2 separate regions of the Homo sapiens genome follow, and region 2 is linked to region 1. Evidence: fine-mapped expression QTL. Tissue or cell type: whole blood. Region 1 holds a variant in brackets; the other region holds the start of a gene. All regions are shown on one strand. Distances are between the middles of the regions.

The links. PIP is the estimated chance that this variant, and not a neighbour inherited with it, causes the effect.
Region 2: TPST1 starts here. The variant in region 1 is fine-mapped to the expression of TPST1 in whole blood (INTERVAL, PIP above 0.99).

What each region holds. Positions count from the first base shown.
Region 1 is chr7:65,405,438-65,408,120 of GRCh38, forward strand. No RefSeq gene overlaps it. Among named protein-coding and RNA genes, the nearest start is that of ZNF92, 33 kb to the left of the region's middle. The variant C/A (reference allele first, on the strand shown) is at 1,711.
Region 2 is chr7:66,203,706-66,206,388 of GRCh38, forward strand. TPST1 (tyrosylprotein sulfotransferase 1) reads left to right here and starts at 1,629. Exons shown (of 6, transcript NM_003596.4): 1 at 1,629-1,817. RefSeq lists silencers at 1,252-1,521, 1,672-2,031.

The DNA.
Region 1 (2,683 bases):
TAAAACATACCTCCTTATCCCCTAATTCAGTTGAGAGACAGTTCATCCTCATCCTAAAGGGCAAGTTTATTACACCGGCGGTTCCCAATATTCGAAGAAAACTGCAAAAACAAGCTGTAGGACCAGATAGCACCTTGGAAAACCTCCTGAGGATAGTCACCTCAGTCTTTTCTAATAGGGACAAGGAGGAGGCTCAAGAGAAAGAGAGAAAGCAAAAGAGAAGGATATAGCTGCGTTGCAGACTTGCAAAGCCCAGGATCCCCAAGGCGCATCTACTAGTTGCTACTGGTGTGGCAACTCAGGGCACTTCAGGAAGGAGTGCCCAGGCAGCAAGAAGAAGCCATCTTGACCTTGTGCAGCTTGTGGTGGGAATCACTGGAGATTGGACTGCCCCCAGAGATGGAGGTCACTGGATTCAGAACCAATCTCACAGTAGTCCAATGGGACTGACAGGTCCTGGGGCTCAAATTCCTGGCTCCAGTGGCTCAAAATGCCATTACTGCATAAGAACCCCAGGTGATTATAGAAATTGAAGAAAGGAGGGTGGACCTCATAGACACTGGAGGTAGCCTTTCTCTTCTCCTCTCTAGTCCAGGCCTCCCCGTCCTTGTAGCATAACCATGATGAGTGTCTCAGGAAAGGTGCTAACCTCATATTTTTCTCAACTTATTAGTTGTAGTTTGGGGGGCCTATTATTTACACATGCCTTTTTAATCATGGCTGAAAGTCCTATTCCTTTATTAGGTAGAGATATTTTAGCGCACTTGGGGGCCAGCATCTTTATAGCCCCAGGACAAACTCTTTGTCTCCTCCTGGTGGAAGCTAATCTTAATCCAGAAGTGTGGGCAACACAAGGAAGAATTGGTCAAGCTATAACTGTTTGGCCAGTCTGGATCCATCTTAAGGATCCCACCTCTTTTCCTAACAGAGACAATAGCCCCTAAAGCCAGAGGATAGGAAATGGCTAGAAGCCATTATTAATAACCTGACAATGTGGGGCCACCTCAAACCCTGTAACAGTTCCTGCAACACCCCAATATTAGGAGTGCAAAAACCTAGAGGGAATGAAGGCTAGTTCAGCACCTTGCCTCATTAATGAAGCTGTAGTTCCAATCCATGCAGTGGTACCTAATCCCTATACCTGAGGGAACTAAATGGTTCTCAGTATTAGATCCAAAGGATGCGTTTTTCTGTATAACATTACATCCTGACCCTCAATAATGATTTGCTTTCGAAGATTCCTCTGGCCAAACAACCCAGTTAACATGGATGGTGTTGCCGCAGGGATTTTGATACAGACCTCACTTATCTGGCCAGGCACTGTCAAAGGACCTCTCTGAGTTTTCCCATTCTCAGATCAGGGTCTTGCGATCTGCAGATGACCTACTGCTCTGCTCATTTTAGTATGCAACCTGCATTGCTTTAATATATTATTCCTTCAGTTTTGATCCTCCAGGATATGATTCATTTCTTCAGGATATGATTCAGTTCTTCAGGATATGATTCAGTTCTTCAGGATATGATGGTGATGTACAGATGGGGTTTTGGTGAGGATGTCCTTTCTGTTTGTTAGTTTTCCTTCTAACAGTCAGGACCCTCAGCTGCAGGTCTGTTGGAGTTTGCTGGAGGTCCACTCCAGACTCTGTTTGCCTGGGTATCAGGAGTGGTGGCTGAAGAACAGTGGATATTGGTGAACCGCAAATGCTGCTG[C/A]CTGATCGTTCATCTGGAAGTTTTGTCTCAGAGGAGTACCTGGCTGTGTGAGGTGTCAGTCTGCCCCTACTGGGGCGTGCCTCCCAGTTAGGCTACTCGGAGGTCAGGGACCCACTTGAGGAGGCAGTCTGCCCATTCTCAGATCTCAAGCTGCATGCTGGGAGAACCACTACTCTCTTCAAAGCTGTCAGACAGGGACATTGAAGTCTGCAGAGGTTTCTGCTGCCTTTTGTTTGGCTATGCCCTGCCCCCAGAGGTGGAGTCTATAGAGGCAGGCAGGCCTCCTTGAGTTGCAGTGGGCCCCACCCAGTTCGAGCTTCCCGGCTGCTTTGTTCACCTACTCAAGCCTTGGCAATGGTGGTCGCCCCTCCCCCAGCCTCCCTGCCGCCTTGCAGTTTGATCTTAGACTGATGTGCTAGCAATAAGTGAGGCTCCGTGGGCATAGGACCCTCCGAGCCAGGCACGGGATATAATCTCCTGGTGTGCCATTTGCTAAGACTGTTGGAAAAGTGCAGTATTAGGGTGGGAGTGACCCGATTTTCCAGGTGCCGTTTGTCACCCCTTTCTTTGACTAGGAAAGGGAATTCCCTGACCCCTTGCACTTCCTATGTGAGGCAATGCCTTGCCCTGCTTTGGCTCATTCTTGGTGCACTGCACCCACTATCCTGCACCCACTGTCTGACACTCCCCAGTGAGATGAACCCAGTACTTCAGTTGGAAATGCAGAAATCACCTGTCTTCTGCATCACTCATGCTGGGAGCTGTAGACTGGAGCTGTTCCTATTCAGCAACCTTGGCTCCACCCCACCTTAACCTTCCAGTTTTATGGATGCTGGTAGAAGGCATGAGACACTGAAGTATGACAAAATCCCTACTATTTACTGTATAACTGAAGGCCAAACTTCATGTTTGTATTTGTCCATGCTACTTTTTTTTAGAGGGATTTCAAAAAGCTCAAGTGGACATTGCACAT
Region 2 (2,683 bases), 800 kb after region 1:
CGATCTCCTGACCTTGTGATCCGCCCACCTCGGCCTCTCAAACTGCTGGGATTACAGGCGTGAGCCACTGCACCCGGCCACACACAAAAACTTCTACACAAATGTTCATAGCAGCATCATGTATAATAGCCAAAAAAGTAGAAACAGATGTCCATCAATGGATTAATGGATAAATAAAAGATGATGTCCAGCCAGGCACGGTGGCCCATGCCTGTAATCCCAGCACTTTGGGAGGCCAAGGCAGGCAGATCACTTGAGGCCAGGAGTTCAAGATCAGCCTGGGCAACTTGATGAAACCCCGTCTCTACTAAAAATATAAAAATTAGCCAGGCATGGTGGCACATGCATGTAATTCTAGCTACTTTGGAGGCGGAGGCATGAGAATCACTTGAGCCCAGGAGGTGGAGGTTGCAGTGAGCCAAGATCACATAACTCCACTCCAGCCTGGGAGACAGAGTGAGACTCTTCAAAAAAAAAAAAGGTGATGTCTGTATAATGGACTATTATTCGGCCGTAACAAGGAATGAAGTGCCGATACATGCTACAACATGGATGAACTTTGAAAATATTATACTGTGTGCAAAGGAAGGTAGTTACCTTCCCGGGTTCAAGCAATTCTCCTGCCACAGCCTCCCCAGTAGCTGGGACGACAGGCGTCCGCCACCATGCCCGGCTAATTTTTGTATTTTTAGCAGGGACGGGGTTTCACTATGTTGGCCAGGCTGGTCTCGAACTCCTGACCTCAGGTGATTCACCAGCTTTGGCTTCCCAAAGTGCTGTGATTAGAGGCATGAGCCACCCCACCTGGCCTAGCAGAGAGCAATTTTGAATACAGCTGTTAGATTCTGCACTCATGCCTTCTCTAATCCATGTCACTGGAGTAGAAATAATTGCTTTGACAGAACCTGGTGTAGATGTGTCTGTAGGAAGAAACTGTAAAATGAATGGATCATTTTGTGAAATATCTGCCCTTTCCCCACCTTTCTTTTGCTTCTTTGCCTTTTTCTCCCTAGTTTTCATTTCTTTCTTTTAGGGCGTCAGCCCCCCACCTCTGTGGTTGGGAGGGACTATTGCACGTCTACACTCTCGTGGGGATGAAATAGTGTTTGAGTTCGTTATTTGCATTTGCGCGTTATCTCCCCGAGGAGATGACAGCTTCTCTGCCAGCAGCGGGCAAAGGTGGGCTCTGAAGCAGAGGAGAGGAATTATCAGGAAAAGCTCATTTTCTTCTCCTGTCCTAGGGTTTCACTGATGAAGGCCTCTGGGACACCCACGTTGGGGGTGGGGGCGGTGAGGACCGCCACCTGCCCGCGGCTCCCCTGCAGCCAGGCCACGCGCGCTGTTGCTAGGGCAACCACCCGGCCAGGCCTGCGGCTGCCGGGAAGCCCCCTCGGGAGCGCGCACGGGAAGGGCTGTGGGGGCGCTGGCCGGCTGCGACGTCAGACCCCCGCCCCTCGGCGCCTGCCGGACCCAGCTCCATTCCCAGCCGCGCCTCCTTCGGTGGGCAGCCGGCCGGAACTCACGAATCAGAGCAGCCGACACATCGTCCGCTCAGCCAATCGTAGCAGATGTGTGATCCCGCCACCTCCCCGGACCCTGGCGGTTGTCGCTGAGTTGGCGACCGCGGGAGACGCTGCTGAGGCGGCTTCGGTTGCGGGTCGGAACGGCGCTGCTCTGCGGGGCCGGTCCAGGCTGGCAGCTGCCGGCGCTTGGCGGTGAGGGCGGGCTCCCGAGTGGCCCCCCACCGAAGGCGGTGGGACCAGCGGCTGAGGCCAGGATGCCGTCCAGGCGGCGCGGCGGCTCCTCACTCATCCCAGGTAAGGGGGACGCGGCGCTCGCTGCGGCTCCGCTCCCCTCTCGTCTCCTCACACCCGGCCCTGTGCCCCGTCCTGGCATCCCTTGGCCCCTTGTCGCCTTCTGCTCGGTGCCTCCCGGTTGTCCAACCCCGCCCCCGAGCGCGGAGCCCCGGGTCTGGCCCGTCCGGCCCCTGCTCCCACGCCCCTTCCCCCATCGCCGGCATTTCCCGGGCTCGGCTTCGCCCCGGCCGCCGGGGCCTCTCCCCTCTGCCCTTTCTCTCCCTTCTCGCAGCCCTGGGACCACGTCCTAGCCCCGCAGTCCCCTGGGATGAGACCCTCGTCTCGCCGGGATCGGACATTTGCCCCCACGTCTACCCCGGCTGCGCTTCTTGAGCTCATCGCCCCATCATCCTACCCGTTGTACGTAGTCCTGTCTGCATGGCAGTCGCCCGCCCCGCTCCAGGTGTCCCTGGGTCTTGCCCTTTTGCTCCTAAGCACCTTCCTTTCCCAACTCGCCTCTTCTCCCCTCACTTTGACCACCCACCATCGCAATCTCCTCTTCCTTCTCTTACTCTTAAACCTCCAGACACTTTCCCACTCTCTGCAATGCCGGATTCATCGCTTTTTTTTTTTTTTTTTTTGAGAGATGGAGTCTCTATGTTGCCCAGGCTGGCTTCGAACTCCTGACCTCAAGCTATCCTTCTGCCTCGGCCTCCAAAGTGCTGGGATTACAGGCGTGAGCCACTGCGCCTGGCTCAGATCCATAGTGTAATATCTTCATTCGTCCTTACATGAGCTGCACCCCATAACATGTAAAGTCCCTTGCCCAGAGTCTAGCACACAGTAGGCCTGGCACATGGTGGGTGGTCACGCATGTTAGCCTCTTC